2 separate regions of the Homo sapiens genome follow, and region 1 is linked to region 2. The links come from fine-mapping of genetic effects on gene expression. A gene starts in region 2. The other region holds a variant in brackets. All regions are shown on one strand. Distances are between the middles of the regions.

Region 1 (8,868 bases), 25 kb before region 2:
ATGTTCCAAATAGAGTTGAATTGACCTACACATTAATTCTGCATTTTATGCTTTTCTAGATCTCCAGAGGGAGTCCAATCCCTGTCCTGTAATAACTGTAGAGCACTTTAAAGAATCACTGGGTGTTAAAGGCCTTCCGCTGTATCCAGACCCCTCCAGAGTACCTGGCACAAAGACTCAGAACAACTTAGAATCTGACTACTTGGCCAGAGATGGCCCTTCAAGCAACAGCTCATTCCACAGCAGCGAAGAGGAAGGGACTGACCTTGAAGGAGACATGCTGGACTGCAGTGGGTCTCGGCCTCTCCTTATGGAGTCTGAAGAAGAAGATGAGAGCTGCAGACCCCCCCCGGGGAAGCTGGGAGGAGCCGTTCCATTCGCTCCACCAGAAGTCTCTCCTGAGCAAGCAAAGACAGTGCAAGGTGGAAGAAAGAACCAGTTTCAAGCCTTCACACAGCCAGCCACTGATGGGCTCAGTGAGCCAGATGTTTTTGCCATAGCTCCCTTCAGGAGCTCAAGGGTTCCAAATGATGACATGGACATTTTCTCCAAAGCCCCATTTGTCTCCAAGAGCAGTATGGCTCCTTCCCAGCCAGAGGAGTCAGACGTGTTTTTGAGAGCTCCTTTCACTAAGAAGAAAAGCATGGAGGAGTTAACAGTTATCCAATGCACCTCCCAGGAGCTGCCTGCACAGACCGGTCTCCTCAGTCAGACAGGTGATGTCCCCCTGCCCGCGGGCCGTGAGAGAGCTGTGTACACCTCTGTCCAAGCTCAGTATTCCACAGCTGGTTTTGTGCAACAGTCTAACCTCCTGTCCCATTCTGTACAAGCAGCAGACCATCTGGACAGCATCTCTCCCAGGGGATCCTGCCTGGAATCTGGGGGTCATTCTAATGACAGAAACAAAGGACCTCAGCTCCAGAAAGAAGCTGTCTCAGGCCCCATGGCTGGCAAACCATTCCGCCCCCAGTCCTTATCCAAGTATTCCCGTCACTATAGCCCAGAAGACGAGCCAAGTCCAGAAGCCCAGCCCATTGCTGCCTACAAAATTGTTTCACAAACCAACAAGCAGTCGATAGCTGGGTCTGTTTCTATCACATCCCTTTCCTCCAGGACTACGGAGCTGCCAGCTGCTGATCCATTTGCTCTAGCACCCTTCCCTTCAAAATCAGGCAAGAAACCCTAGGAGCAAAACCTGAGCCTCAAGCCTCTTGTCTCTATCCCACCCTCAATACCCGCCATGGCACTCCCAGCTTAGCCTTCTGAAGAAGAAATATTATCAGTTCTTATATTTCAATTCCCTGCGTCAGAGCAGAATTTCTTGAGTCAACAAACTCAGTTGCAGTGATATTTAGTTGAAGCCCCTTTAAGTTATGTTCATTTTTGTTTGTTTGTTTGTTTGTTTATATTGATTTCTGGACTTGGAGGCATTTTCATCTCCTTCACAGAGGTCATCCACTTCCACCAAGAACTCTGCTTTCCCCCCGCCCCACCCACAGAAACTGTTTAAATCCTGAAATACTTCTTCACCCCAATCCCAAAGGGGCCCTATTGTTGCTAGTTTTAATTCCTGTAGCTCCTGTTCTAAGTCATGCCCATCGAAGAATCAAGATTAGTCCCTCCACTAAATCAAGATTTAGTACTCTTGAAAAGGGGAGATGTCTGGAAAGAAGAGCAAGATAAAAACCCTGCACATCAACAGGAAGTATAATCCTGCAGTTACTAATAATTCCTGTAGAAGCAGCAGCTCTAGGAGTCTCCAGATCTGATTCTCAGTCTGTGTGCAAGCCAGGCTGGCTCTCGTGCATGACTGTCTATGGGTGTGGAATGTACGTCAGAGCCTGTGTAGAGATACAGGCAGATGGGCTAACTCCTCATGTCTAGTCATGCTGGCAGGGCTTTCCCCACATCCATGCTTTTGAAATTAGTGTGAGTGTACAGGTTTGTGTGTGCATGTATACGTGTGTGTGCACAGGAAGCATTTCCACTTGAGGGAAATCCTGCCCCATCATGCCTACCTCCACAATGAAATCACTCGTTTTTTGGTGTTTGCTCGCCTAACTGACTTGAACCCCATTTTATTTATTTAGTTTTTTTCTCATGGCAAAGTAGAATACGTTGGAAGGTGTAGGGAAATCCTGCTGGAACTGGTGTTTCAGAGTAAATCTTTTTTCTCTCCGGAATTTCTTGTTTTGCTATTAACAAATTATATTTACCTGATTATGAAAAATTAATTTTCCTTATACATTTTCCCCTTACAACACTAGAAAAGAGCACCTTGTTACAGTTCCGGCCTCTCAGTATGTGGGCTAAATGCCAGCATTAGGGAATTCATTAATCATGAGACTAGGCTACAAACTAGGCTTGCTTGTTTTGGGGTGGTTTTGTTGTTGTTGTTGTTGTTGTTGTTGTTGTTTCCAAATCTCTACTGCCTTTTGAGGAAATGTAAATCTGAGACATGGAAATAAGTGTTTGGGAGAATGGAAAAGAGCTGAATCAGGTAGGCATGAAAACTTTTACATTCTCTATCCTCTTTAGATGTTGAAATAGGCCAGACAGGTTAACTGATGTTTTTTAAAATTGTCTTTTATTTCTGGAAAGATCTGACTTATTCCTAGCTTTTTTCATACCCTTTATTATTAGTGCCTTAAAATAAAGCTGGCCAGGTGCAGTGCCACACACCTGTAATACCAGCATTTTGGAAGGCTGAGGCAGGAGGATCAGTTGAGCCCAGGAAGTTCAAGACCAACTCTGGCAACACAGCGAGACCCTGTCCCTTCAAAAAATAAATAAAAAAATAGGCTGGGCATGGTGGCTCACACCTGTAATCCCAGCACTTTGGGAGGCCAAGGTGGGCAGATCACAAGGTCAGGAGTTTGAGACCAGCCTGGCCAACATGGTGAAACCCCATCTCTACTAAAAATACAAAAAATTAGCTGGACGTGGTGGTGCACACCTGTAGTCCCAGCTACTCAGGAGGCTGAGGCAGGAGAATCGCTTGAACCCGGGAGGCAGAGGTTGCAGTGAGCAGAGATTGCGCCACTGCACTCTGGCCTGGGCGACAGAGCGAGTCTAAAAAATAAAATTAAATAAAATAATGAAAAAAATTAGCTGGGTATGGTGACATATGCCTGTAGCTACTCAGGAGGCTGAGCTGGAAGGATCACTTGAGCCCAGGAGTTTGAGGCTGCAGTGAGTTGTGAGTCCAGCCTGGGTGACAGAGTGAGACACTGTCTCCAAAAATATAATAATAAAAATAAAGCCTGTATCTCAATGGGAAGATTTCTGCTAAGGCAGTTCAACTCACTGGAAAGAACTGCTGCATTAGGTTTCAACTTTAATGCTTTCTGTTACTTCTAGTAAAGGTTAAGTGATTTTTCCATTAGCTGTAGAAGTTTGGAGAGCTATTTACCAAGCCAGATCAATGATTTAAAAATTATTGGAAATTCATCTAAGAATCAAGTCTGAATGCCCAATTCTATTGCGGTTGATTAGGTGTGATATTCTTTAAAGTTCAGGAATATTGGCAGTAAAAAATGAGCAGCTACTTTTCAATACTTTGTCCTTTTTTGGTGGTCTCTGCCTATTTCAAATGTCCTGATCAAAAGATAAATAATTGGCACTGTGCCAAGGTTTGGTTTTCCAACTAAGGTTTCAACTGTGCCAGAAACCTATGTCCTTCACTTTGGTGGATGCTAAATGTTATTCTAAGAATATGCTTTTTCCCAATTCTCCTTTCTGATTTTTATGTATTAGTGGATGCAAAATTGTCTTTCTAGTTGAATGAATAATTTCGGCTAATGCACGTGGAACTTTGCACCCCAGATTCTTCCCATGGTCATTATCAAGTGAAGCCCTCAAAAACATGAGCGAAGAGCCTAGAAATACTCAGGGAGATTTCTCACCCCAACTCAGAAATTTTTTTTTTTTTTTTCAAGACGGCGTCTTGCTCTGTCGCTCAGGCGGGAGTGCAGTGGTGTGATCTCGGCTCACTGCAACCTCCATTTTCCGAGTTCAAGCGATTCTGCCTCAGCCTCCCGAGTAGCTGGGATTATAGGCACACACCACC[G/A]CGCCTGGCTAATTTTTGTATTCTTAGTAGAGATGGGGTTTCACCATGTTGGCCAGGTTGGTCTTGAACTCTTGACCTTGTGATCCACCCACCTTGGCTTCCCAAAGTGCTAGGATTACAGGCGTGAGCCACCGCACCTGGCCCAGAAATTCTTTTTTTTTTTTTAAATTATTATTATACTTTAAGTTTTAGGGTACATGTGCACAATGTGCAGGTTAGTTACATATGTATACATGTGCCATGCTCGTGTGCTGCACCCACTAACTCGTCATTTAGCATTAGGTATATCTCCTAATGCTATCCCGCCCCCCTCCCCCCACCCCACAACAGTCCCCAGAGTGTGATGTTCCCCTTACTGTGTCCATGTGTTCTCTTTGTTCAATTCCCACCTATGAGTGAGAACATGCGGTGTTTGGTTCAGAAATTCTTAAAGTAAGAGATCATTCTAATTCCCCTTTCCAAATATTCAGGATTATCTCTGTAACAGCCCAGCAAAATGTTTTTCCTTTGGTTATTTGATAATTCCCTTCTAATCAAGTGACTATTTTAATTCTCAAGGTGCAAATCAGGATAAAATCATGGTGATTTTACTACATAGTTGAATACTTCGTCAAGTATGAGCTTGTATCCTTTTTAAATTTTTCACTGGAGGCCAGGCGCGGTGGCTCACGCTTGTAATCCCAGCACTTTGGGAGGCCGAGGTGGGTGGATCACTTGAGGGTAGGAGTTTGAGACCAGCCTGGCCAACATGGTGAAACCCTGTCTCTACCAAAAATACAAAAAGTAGCTGGGCGTGATGGCACGCACCTGTAGTCCCAGTTACTAGGGAGGCTGAGGCAGAATTGCTTGACCCAGGGAGGCAGACTTTGCAGTGAGCCAAGATTGTGTCATTGCACTCCAGCCTGGGCGAGAAGAGCAAAACTCCGCCTCAAAAAAAAAAAAAAAATTGTCACTGGAGACATGATGGGTGGAGACTCTACATACCTTCTTTGAATACAGAAACGGATGCAAACACATGCAAATTACTTTTTTTTTTTTTTTTGGTGATGCATGAAAAAACTTTGACTTGTGGATTACATTAATTATTAGTAACAGTTAGATTCTGCCGACTTGTATTACAGTAGGGTCTTATTTCCTTAAAGAGAAAAAAAAATACAGTCATGCCCCACTTAATGATGAGGGAGACATTCAGAGAAATGCATCCTTAGGTGATTTTGTCATTGTGTGAACATCACAGAGTGTACTTAACACAAACCTAGATGGCACGGCCTACTACCTACCTAGGCTATATGGTCCAGCCTGTTGCTCCTGGGCTACAAACCTGTACAGCATGTTACTGTACTGAATACTGTAGGCAGTTGTAACACAATGGTAAGTATTTCTGTATCCAAACATTTTAGACATAGAAAAGGTACAGTAAAAATATGGTATAATCTTATGGGACCATCATGGTATATGTGGTCCATCATTGATGGAATCGTTTTTATGCAGCACATGACTGTATATAATCAACAAACAACTCTACTTTCTTGTTTTCGTTTGTTGTGTTTTTGCTTTACACATTTGATAGGGAACATAGAAGTTGTGACCTTTCATTTCAGTGGAAAGCATTGAGCCAGAATATATTTATTCCTAAACCATCGAGCCACACATGCATTGATGAACCCTGAAAGAATCCACAGTAATTGACTAACAGGCAGTACTGAATGAAAGATGTCATATGTGGTGAAAAATATTTAATATATCAGTTTCTTGGGCTCACATACAGCCCTTTAGTTCCAAGTGCTTGGTTAGATTAGAAAATGGGATGAACACAATTTGATGCTGAAGCAGCTGCTGAGCAGCACCCAGGGAGTCTAGGTCATACGCCCTATATTGTTTTCGGCCCACTTATTGTTGAGTTGAAAAGTCTCATATTTGTAGACTAGAGTGTATGTGTTTAGAGGCTCATGTTGTATCTGAGTTTTCTCTGGCAACTAAGATCTCTTTCTAAACGTTCTAGAAAGATACTGGTATCTTACTGGCCCATTATTTAGTAAGTTTTAGAATACATGTACATCAGTGTTTTCAACTGCTTGGTGGACATTTCACTGATGCATAATCAAAGTAGCAGATTATAATCATCAGAGTGATCTGACAAGGAAATTCTGTATTTGCTTCCATAAAGAAAAATAATCAAAACATATATCAGATATAATATATATGCAGTATATCACATAGGAAATTTTATTGTAGGAAATTAGAGAAGGATGCTACTCAATTCATTCTCTAGCAGGAAGAATACAGCTTAAAAATCACTTGGGTCCCTTTAATAAAGAAAAGTGTGATTCTGTGTTGTGTGTTTGGAACTGAAATTGGAGAACACGTGCCAGTCGACTGTGAAATGGTTGCTGGATAAAACCACAGATGTGGTTTTATCCGAGAAATGTGGGACTGAAATTATTTTGATGAGAGGTACATAAGAGAGCTGCAGAAAAGACTGTAGCTTCTGAGGAGGCAGGAGTACCTTGTTAATATCCAAACCACCCCTGAGTTCTAATGTTCCAACTCCACCTAAACGAGGAATTGGAAACTTTAAATGGAATTATCTAATTTAAATTCTTAGTTTTTTCTTTGTCTTTCTCAGCTGATACTTGTAGTTTTGTTTTGTTTTTTAACCACCAAGAACACTTGCAAGTTTGTTACTGAAAACATCACTAAAGGAAAAGAAGAGTTTCAAAATGCTTGAAAAGTAGTATGTGGTTGGGAATTGTTTTTGTTCAAGTCCCTGGAAGTCCTCTTGGCTTAGCTCCCTTGTTCCTGTTCCCACTTCATTTCCTTACTTAACATTCCCCTATTTTGAGCATGTCAATAAGTGCATGATGAATGGCACAGTTGAATGATCATGTTAACTTTAATTGCTTCCTTTGTTGCTGTAAACAGTTTCTTGTTAAGTTTCAGCCAAGTCTGTGACAATCTCACCAAATAAGAATGAAATGGGCGGGGTGTGGTGGCTCACACTTGGAATCCCAGCACTCTGGGAGGCTGTGTTGGGCCGATCGCTTGAGCTCATGAGTTCAAGACCAACCTGGGCAACATGGCAAAACCTTGTCTCTACAAAAAATACAAAAATTAGCCAGGCATGGTGGTGCACACCTGTAGTCCCAGCTACTTGGGAGGCTTAGGTGGGAGGATGGCTTGAGCACGGGAGGCAGAGGTTGCACTAAGCCAAGATCGTGTCACTGCACTCCAGCCCAGGCAATAGAGCCAGACCCTGTCTCAAAAAAACAAAACAAACAAAACATGAATGAATGAAATGGCTCACCTTCCCTATTATGAACTAGAAGAAAGGATGAAGGAAGGTTGGCAGGACCCCAGCCTTACTCTGTAGTGACAACCCAGAGGTACTTTTCCCGGAATGCAGGGTCAAGTTTATGTGTGAAGGGACTCTAGAATAGCTGGTAAAAATGGCTACATGGTAACCATTCTTGACTTAGTCCAGTATTCCCATAATTTGTAATTCCATAAATTTATTCTCAGCTGTCCCCCAGCCATTTCTAATAGAAGGATGTGTACCCCAGTTTTGACAATGTTCTTGAAATCAAGTTAGTGTTACCTGCATTGCATTATAATGGAACTATATGTACATGTTAAAGGGATCCGTTTGATTCCTTTCGGCAAGGAATTGCAAAAATAGTTTTTACCAATACCAGTTAAAATAGGATAGGTTAGACTTTGGGGGCAGGGTGAGACAGTGCAGCCTTTTCACTCTGAAATGGCAAATCAGCTGTACTCTTTGAGTCTACCAGAGATTCCTATTTGAGTGTGAATGGGGTGTGTGTGTGTGTGTGTGTGCTCATTCATCTTCATGCTTTCTTCCATGGTGTTAATTCAAGCTCTCCTAATAAAGGTATCCAAAGAGTACTGAGAAGTGACCATAGGTATTTGGCATGAGTAAATGTAGTTCCTTTTGCCAAAAAAACTCTCAAAAGTTACAACTGGAGTTCTTCGCGATAAAAGGTTGGGGAAATCAGCCATGGCTTTAGCCTTGTTCCCAAGTACACATCTTCTTATCCACAAGGATGAAACTCTGTAGGGCTCACCCTGAGGGCTCATGTGTGGCATTGAGAGGGTAGCAGTGACCAGAACACCACAAGGCCCACAAGATGTTTTGAATGAGGGAACATTTAATGTCATTTGTTAGGAGATAGAAACCAAATAATAAAGGACAAGGACCACGCTCATTCCGTGGAGAAGAGGTGAACTCCCTCTGCTGACTATTTGGAATGGACTGAATGAGGAGGTCTCTCCAGCCAGAAGGAGTATTGAGGTCATCAGGCCTCAGAAAACAATGTACACATAATCTCGGGCTGTGAACAAGAGAAAGGAGGGGGGGAAACATGAAAGTCAATCTTAACAATTTTTGCAATACCTCTTATTTGCAGACCATTGGATTTATGTTATTGCACTCTCGGTGTGATTTATCGTATGTATCTGATAGGTTTTATGAATTGTTTTGAGTTGTAAACTCCTATACCCTTTATTAAAATGGACCTAATTAAGTGATTTATGCTTTGTGCAATTTCTTAAATCAGATCTCTCTAGGATTGAAGGGATCCATAGGTATCTTTCACTTAGTGTGAAGCCTAGTAGTATACTTTTATATTCCTGAAGAGAGACCAGCATTAACATAAAGAGAGAAGTCTTAGGAAAAAATATACCTAAGAATTATTTTTAAAATTCATACTGTGAAGGAGAATCTGCCTGCCTATTTCCTCTCCAAATTTCAGAAAATAACACAGAGTGCTATTTGCCTGAAC
Region 2 (8,868 bases):
TGAGACCTTGTCTCAAAAAAAAAAAAAAAAAAAAAAAAAAAAAAAGAATCTCACAAATAGTTTCCAAATTCTGGGGAAATTTAGAGAGAAAGAATATGCTTCAAATTTTGATCAGAAAGGTATATTTTACCCAACTTGTTGTAAGCTATAAATAGCTCAACAGAAAAAAGTTTTCTTGACTCTGTAAAAACAAAACAAAAATTATCAGCAATGTTTCAAACAAAAAACAGTCATTAAAAATTACTTCACACACATACAAAAATTACTTTAATATTCTATTGGTTTAGTCCCATTAATTAACTCTTGTTCTTTTTGATGTTGGGTTAGCAATCCTCATGAATACATCAGCTTTTTAATTAGAGTCCTGGAAAGCATTTTCATAGTCCAATGCTATGATCTCCAAAGTTATCGGAAACTTGTATTCAAGAGTATTTGTTAGAGTCCTTTCCATGAATTTCCTTAAAGAAGAAAATTTTGGACTGCAGCTGATTATAAACTACTTTTTGAGAAGAATCAAAATAAAACAACAATTGTCTGTGGATGACAAAACTCTTAGAACAGCCATGGTTAACCTAATGCTAGATGACGAGTTAGTGGGTGCAGCACACCAGCATGGCACATGTATACATATGTAACTAACCTGCACATTGTGCACATGTACCCTAAAACTTAAAGTATTAAAAAAAAAAAAAAAAGAACAGCCATGGTTAAAGACACAATTGACAAGGAAATTTGGTTATTTCTGTGGCACACAACGATGTAACATAATAATCATAATTATTACTGATGTCATATACTAAGACATACCAGAATTACAGGAATCTCACACAATTTTGAAACACACATTAATAACTCATTCATATAAATATAACCCAAAGAAAGTTAAACACCATTTCACATTTGACAATGCTTCCTCTCCCCCACATAGCGTTCTATTCCCTTAGTGCCTTTGTTGATTTACAAATCTTCTCCAGGAGCTCCCTGAGACCAGGAATTGTTTTGTTCATCTTAATATTACTCCACACAGGATTTTGATCATCTGTGAGTAACAGGAAACCTAATTAAACAGTACTGTAGGCAAATATTGACCTAAAAGAAAGAAGCTGAGGCAAAATTAATATAGAGAATTTATTTGGGCCAAGGTTGAGGACTGTAGCCCTGGCCATATTGCAGGTTGCCTTGGAGAGTGCTCTGGGAAAAAAGGAGAGGCTCAACTTTTTAAAGAAAAAGAGACAAATCAGGGGAGAGGAACAATTACAAAAGTTGCTCATCAGGTATTCTCATTTGACTTTTTTTTTTTCTTGAGACAGGGTCTCATGCTGTCACCCAGGCTGGAGTGCAGTGGTGCAATCACGGCTCATTGCAGCCTCAACTTCCCAGGCTCAGGTGATTCTCTCATCTCAGCCTCCCAAATAGCTGGCACTACAGGCATATGCCATGACATCTGGCTAATTTTTTGTGGAGACATGGTTTGTTTGTAGAGACTCCCAAGTGCTGGGATTAGAGGCGTGAGCCACAGCACCCGGCCCTGATACTTTTCTTTTTTAGGCTAGTCAATGGGCCTCATAATTTAAAGGGGCTCACCTTCCTCAGATAACATGTTTTTATTCTGCCAGGGTTAGTGGCTCATGCTTGTAAACCCTCCATGTTTCCCAGCATGGTCTCAAACTCCTGGGCTCAAGCAATTTGCCCACCTTGGCCTCCCAGAGTGTTGGGATTACAGGTGTGAGCCACCATGCTCAGCAGGTATTCTCATTGGTTTACAGAAATAACATTGTTAGTGACTGGCCATGCACTGTTGAACTATAGGGTATATGGCATGTTAACGGCTTCTTGACATTAGTCTAGTGTATACATAGCAAGTGACTTCAAGAAGTTGTTACTTAGCTCAAGGGCGAATGAGATATTACTGCTGCTACATTTTAAATGCCTCTCTGGGCCTGATACTTTTTCTAGTGCAGGCTTGTGGTGCAGGACTGGCAGGCAGCTCTGCTCATGGCCCTGGCATGGGATCCACTAGGCGAAGCCAGCTGGGCTCCTGAGTCAGGTGGGGACTTGGAGAACTTTTATGTCTAGCCAGAGGATTGTATATGTATCAATCAGCACTCTGTGTCTAGCTTGGGGTTTATGGATGCACCAATCAGCACTCTGTATCTAGCTAATCTGGTGGGAACTTGGAGAACTTTTATGTCTGGCTAAAGGATTGTAAATACACCAATCAGCACCCTGTGTCTAGCTCAAGGTTTGTAAATGCACCAATCAGTGCTCTGTGTCTAGCTAACCTAGTGGGGACTTGGAGAACTTTTACTCTAGCTAGAGGATTGTAAATACACCAATCAGCACTCTATGTCTAGCTCAGGGATTGTAAACGCACCAATCAGCACCCTGTCAAAACGGACCAATCAGCTCTCTGTAAAACAAACCAATCAGTACTCTGTAAAATGGACCAATCAGCTCTCTGTAAAATGGGCCAATCAGCAGGATGTGGGTGGGGTCAGATAAGGGAATAAAAGCAGGGTGCCTGAGGCAGCAGTGGCAACCTGCTTGGGTCCCCTTCCATGTTATGAAAGCTTTGTTCTTTTGCTCTTTGTAGTAAATCTTGATGTGGCTCACTCTTTGGGCCCGTGCTGTCTTTATGAACTGTAACACCCATCGCAAAGGTCTGCAGCTTCACTCCTGAAGTCAGTGAGACCACGAACCCACCAGAAGAAACAAACTCCGGACACATCTGACCATCTGAAGGAACAGACTCTGGACACACCATCTTTAAGAACTGTAACACTCACCACAAGGGTCCATGGCTTCATTCTTGAAGTTAGCGAGACCAAGAACCCACCAATTCCGGACACAGTAGCACAGAGGCTGTGGGTGGTTTGACTAGAGCAGGCCCTAAGAATGGTGGGACATAGAAGCCTCGTTTCAGGGGTTTGAGGAGTGGGAAGTGAAAAACTAGAGACTAAGAGTGCAGACCATTTTTTTAAGCCACTTGGTTCTGAAGGGAAGAAAAGAGTGTGGAAGAGGATTTGGGGCAAGGCAGGATTTTTCTTATGATAAGGAATCCATCAGAGAGGGAAAAATTGAAGTCTGAGAAGAACGATTGTTCCAAGGTGGAAGAGCCACATTTTATTTTTGATTGAGGGTCAAAAACAGAGCCTTGGACTGCCTTGCGGTCTAGAATGGGTGTGTGTGGGGGGGTGGGTGGGGGGTTGGATGGGGGAAGATCACTGGGTGGGGGGTTGGATGGGGGAAGATCACTAGTAGTTAAAAGCAAGTACGCAGCATTGGGAATGAACCAAACTCGTAGGAGGCACAGCCCACTCAGTGTGCGGGCCCGGGCGAGCTGCAGGCCTGAAACCCACCCACCCTCTTAGATGTGTCTGTGGGCCATAGAAATTACTAGGGTTGTCTTGGGTGTGGCCTCAACCTGTTCAACAACAGGTGTGCTGTTTCCATTCTGGAAACCAGTCCTCTGTCTTCCAGAACAGTGATTCTCAAATTTTAGCTGGCATCAGAATCCTGGGAAGGGTTTGTTAAAACACTACTAGGCAGGGTGAGGTAACCTAAGAGCTTTTGGAGGCCCAGGTGAGAGGGATCACTTGAGGCCAGCAGAGTTCAAGAGCAGCCCAGGCAACACAGGGAGACCTCTTCTCTACAAAAATACTACTACTACTACTGCTAATAAAAGCCAGGCACCGTGGCTCACACCTGTAATCCCAGTGCTTTGGGAGGCTGAGGCTGGAGGATGAATCACTTGAGCCCAGGAGTTGGTTTTGGTGAGCTATGATCGCACTCCTGCTCTCCAGCCTGGGCAACAGAGATAGACCCTGTCTCTGGAAAAAGAAAAAAAAAAAAAGCAAGTAACAAAGATTTCTAGTCCCCACCTACAGAGATTGTGCCTCAGTAAGTATAAAGTGGGGCCCAGGATTTCTAACATGTTCTAACGTGCATTTCTAACGTGTTCTCCTGCTTTTTTTTGGCCCCTAGTCCGCACTTTGAGAACCGTTGTCCTAGAGAAAACGGAATACTCCAGGAAGGTTCTGGAAGAATAGGTAATGGGCTTTGGCACTCTGCCCTGGAAACTAGTCAAGTCTCATGTTAATCGGAGAAGGGCAGCACTGTACCAGATACATCCTCTGTGCGGGTTGGTCCAAGATGACCAAGTGGCAGCTGACAAGCACAGCTATGAGGAAGGGTTAGACACAGTTCCACATCAGACCCATGGGAAAAGGGCAGGAGAAATGCGAGAACCTTTTAGAAGGAATGCTCCAGGGAGTCTTTGGGGGCAGTCACTGAGCTGGGCCTGGAGGCTGAGTAGGGTCCTAGAGGAGGGAATGGGTCAGGTTTAGGGGCTGGAAACAGCATTCGCAAGGCAGCACCAGCACCAGCTAAAAACCTAGCCAACAGGGAAAACAAAGTACGGAAACACGCATGCGTTCACAGTGCTGCGTGAATTAACCAAGCGTTGGCGCAAACGGGAAAGGTTCCCCGGCCTCTCTTGGTCAGGGTGACGCAGTAGCCTGCAAACCTCGGCGCGTAGGCCACCGCACTTATCCGCAGCAGGACCGCCCGCAGCCGGTAGGGTGGGCTCTTCCCAGTGCCCGCCCAGCTACCGGCCAGCCTGCGGCTGCGCAGATCTTTCGTGGTTCTGTCAGGGAGACCCTTAGGCACTCCGGACTAAGATGGCGGCGACGGCCAGGCGGGGCTGGGGAGCTGCGGCTGTTGCCGCCGGGCTGCGCAGGCGGTAGGTGACGAGCCTGGAGCTCCGAATAGGTGTGCCGCTGGGCTTAGCCAGCGGAGCGGTCGCCGCCTTGCAGACCCTCTCTCGAGGCGGGTGGGTAGTGCATCTGATGGAGCCGGCGGGTCCGCCCTGTCGCCGTAGTTGGGGGTGAGCCCTGAGGCTGTCTGTGCGGGAGCTCGGCGCTTCTGTGGCCTAATCCGGGCGGACTCTCTGGAGCTTCCTCTCAGGCTCAGAGACCCAGTTCTTGAGTCTCTGCGGTACGGAAGCTTGTAGAGACTGGCTGTAGAGCCAGAACGGAGGAGCTGTTTTAAAATCGTGTGCCTCTCCCGCCCCCAGGCCCTCTACCGGGTGCATTCCCTCCTCTTCTAAACGCAGAATCAGAATGTCACACAGAAGGGAAGAAAATACCTTGTCTCGTTTCCTCATTTTCCCAGTAAGGCCCTGAAAGAGGAGGTGACATGTCCAAGGTTACACAGTTTCTAAGTGATGGAATTCCGACGAGAACCAGGACCCCTAGATTCCCTGCACCCACCACCATTAAGCCCACTCTGTTCCCTTGTTTTTTCCGCCTCCCTGAGCCCTACCTTTGAGTTTCACCTTTCAAAGACTTCTGTGAACATTGCTAAGAGGACATTTATGTAGGTGTACCTTAATTTTACGTCTGGAGAAAATGGCCTACGGAGAGTTTGCCCTCTAGAGTATTAGACATTGTAGTGTTAATGGTGCTCTTGAAGTTTAAATGTATATCCTAAAAAGATTTAAGTTGGTAGAATTTTTTGTTAGTTACCTCCTGTGTTTGAGTAGATGTCTTCCTTGAATAATGTAATCCACTCTTACTTTAAAAAAACAAGACTTTAAACCTGTATGTTGGAATGTGCTTCCTCTTTATTCATTCTGCTGCCTTTTCCCTGGGCTGAAGGGACGAGAATATTATTCTTCTAGTGCATTTCCAAATTCCAGAGTATTCACAGATTTAGATACTGAGCTATAGAAAAAGGCATTTTTACCCCAAACCTTGAACTGCACTCAATTAGTAATTATTGGGCACCAATTAAATAATGGTAGCAGCTGCCATTTATTGAGCACTTACTGCATGGCCTGGCACTGGTTTAAGCACTTTACATGGATTCTCTGGATTATTTATGAGGTAGCTGTGAAACTAATCTCATTGTAGAGATGAAGAACTGAGGCCATTGTGCTAGCAGCTAGAAATGAAGATAGTTTCTCCCCTTAATGAGTATGCAGTCTAGCAAGAAAAATATATTAACAAATAATGACAGTCATGAGTGCTGTAATAGATTCATGTAATTTAAAGTGGTGTGCCGGGCGTGGTGGCTCACGCCTGTAATCCCAGCACTTTGAGAGGTCAAGCTGGGCGGATTGGCTGAGGTCAGGAGTTCGAGACCAGTCTGGCCAACATGGTGAAACTAAAAAAAAAAAAAAAAAAGCTGGGCGTGGTGGTGTGTGCCTGTAATCCCAGCGAGTTGGGAGGCTGAGGCAGGGGAATTGCTTGAACCAGGGAGGTGGAGGTTGCAGTGAGCCAAGATCACGCCACTGCACTTCAGCCTGGGTGACAGAGTGAGAAAAGCGAGATTATTTCCATCTCAAAATAAAGTGGTGACAGCTCTTACTGTGATCAACACTGGAGCTAGTGTGGGGAGTGGCAGTCAGGACTTCACAGATTATTTGATTCCCATTCAGTGTTGATTCCATTGTTCTCTTGAATCCTCGGTGCCAATCCTTTTATCTCTCCAATAGCATCTAAGAAACTCTATGGGTTACAGTCCCACAGTATCCCAGTAGTCTTTTGCTTATCAATGGCATATAAAGATTATTGAAGGTAGTAAACAGTTCATCTGTATTTTGTTAATACTTAATTGGTGCCCACTCTTTCTTTTCCACGAGAAGAATTCCAGTTTTGTGAGAGAGAGAAAAAAATGTGGCAGCCGCTGTTGCTTCTTGCCTATTTTAAGCAGAAGATAATTAGATAAATGTGATCTTGTGTATGATCACAAACAATTTTGGCCTTTGGAAAAAATTTTAACAGAAAATTATGACAGTGAAAGACCGTTCTAACTGACCATCATTTTGCCTTTAACCTCTAGACTGCCCATTCCCGGGCTTGGGCCAAGCTAACTTTGGGAGACATTTAGTTTATAGTTTAAATGATAATAGCCCTTTCCCAAAATTAAACCACCTTTATAAAGCTAATGAAAGACCACCAGGTTTGGAGGATGAGAGGAGCCTGAATTCTGCTAAGGTGTAGATGTAAATGATTACCAGCCATTATTCTGGCGGTCCTAAGAGTTGCAACTTCCCCAATTACTCCTGCAGAAAACATCTCTCTTGTAGAACCTAAGATTAGCCTTTTCAGGTTTTTGCATTTCTGACTGGTCCTGTGGCCCCGCCCACAAACGGGCTGAGCACTCAGGAGGATCATTTTCCGCACCCCTATGATTGCATCCCCAACCAGTCAGCAACACCCGTTCCCTGGCCTGCCAGTCTATCCTTGAAAACCCCTAGCCTCAGATCCAGAGAGACTGAGTACTAAAACTCCACTCTCCCTTTCAGCTGGCTCCATGTGAATTAAACTCTTTATTGCAAATCCCCTGTCTTGATGAATTAGCAGTATCTGGACAGTGGGCAAAGTGAACCCATTGGCAATTATAAATGACTCCTGTACTTAAAATTTTTCTATGGCTCCTATGAAGTGGCAGTGGTAATGGATAGCGATGATATTTTCAAGTAAACCGGATTTTAAAGTAAATTGCATTGGGATTTTAAGAATTTTTACTATTAAAGTCTCCTTTTACTTCCTTTTCCAGTAATATTTGCTTTCATTTTCTTCCTTTGTTTTCAGTTTGTCAAAGCCATAAAAAATAGCCAATTAAGTTTTCTCTGTAAGAGTGAAGTAAAGTTAGAGGCCTGGCGCTGTGGCTCACGCCTGTAATCCCAGCACTTTGGGAGGCCGAGGCTAGTGGATCATGAGGTCAGGAGTTCAAGACCAGCCTGGCCAAGATGGTGAAACCCTGTCTCTACTAAAAATACAAAAATTAGCCGGGCATGGTGGTGGGCATCTATAATCCCAGCTACTTGGGAGGCTGAGGCGGAGAATTGCTTGAACCCAGGAGGCGGAGGTTGCAGTGAGCCAAGATCGCACCACTGCACTCCATCCTGGGCGACAGAGCAAGACTCCGTCTCACAAAAAAAAAAAGAAAAAAAAAAGTGAAGTGAAGTTACAACACTGGGTTAATATGTTTCCATCCAAAAAGCATATAAAAGGCAGGGCATGGTGGCTCACGCCTATAATCCCAGCACTTTGGGAGGCCAAAGTGGGAGGATTACTTGAGCCAGGAGCTGGAGATCAGCCTGAGCAACATAGTGGTAATCCATCTCTACCAGAAGTAAAAAAAAAAAAAAAAACTAGCTGGGCATGGTGGCATACAGCTGTAGTGTCACCTACTTGGGAGGCTGAGGTGGGAGAATCACTTGAGCCTAGGATGTTGAGGCTGCAGTGAGCCCTGATCACACCATTGTACTCCAGCATGGGTGACAGAACAAGACCCTGTCTCAAAACAAAACACGAAAAGCGTGATCAAGATCGTTGGCTGTGTAATCCCAGCATTTTGGGAGGCCAAGGCAGGTGGATCACTTTAGGTCAGGAGTTGGAGATCAGCCTGGCCAACGTGGTGAAACCCTGTCTCTACTAAAAATATAAAAATTAGCCGGGTGTGATGGTGTACACCTGTAATCCCAGCTACTAGGGAGGCTGAGGCAAGAGAATCACTTGAACCCAGGAGGTGGAGGTTGCAGTAAGCTGGGATCGCATCACTGCACTCCAGCGTGGGCGACAAAGTGAGACTCAGTCTCAAAAAAAAAAGACGGGCCAGGTGTGGTGTCTCATGCCTGTAATCTCAGCACTTTGGGAGGCCGATACGGGAGGATCACCTGAGGTCAAGAGTTCGAGACCATCCTGGCCAACATGGTGAAACCCTGTCTCTACTAAAAAGTACAAAAATTAGCCAGGCATGGTGGCGGGCACCTGTAATCTCAGCTACTCGGGAGGCTGAGGCAGCAGAATTGCTGGCACCTGGGAGATGGAGGTTGCAGTGAGCCGAGATTGTGCCATT

The links. PIP is the estimated chance that this variant, and not a neighbour inherited with it, causes the effect. A credible set is the group of variants that fine-mapping cannot tell apart.
Region 1: its variant is the best candidate, but not a certain one, in a credible set for the expression of NFU1 in fibroblasts (GTEx, PIP 0.83).

What each region holds. Positions count from the first base shown.
Region 1 is chr2:69,457,743-69,466,610 of GRCh38, reverse strand. It overlaps AAK1 (AP2 associated kinase 1), which reads left to right. Exons shown (of 22, transcript NM_014911.5): 22 at 1-8,614. Among named protein-coding and RNA genes, the nearest start is that of NFU1, 25 kb to the right of the region's middle. The variant G/A (reference allele first, on the strand shown) is at 4,070.
Region 2 is chr2:69,433,234-69,442,101 of GRCh38, reverse strand. NFU1 (NFU1 iron-sulfur cluster scaffold) reads left to right here and starts at 4,667. Exons shown (of 8, transcript NM_001002755.4): 1 at 4,667-4,741. The coding sequence starts at 4,680. RefSeq lists an enhancer at 4,662-4,811.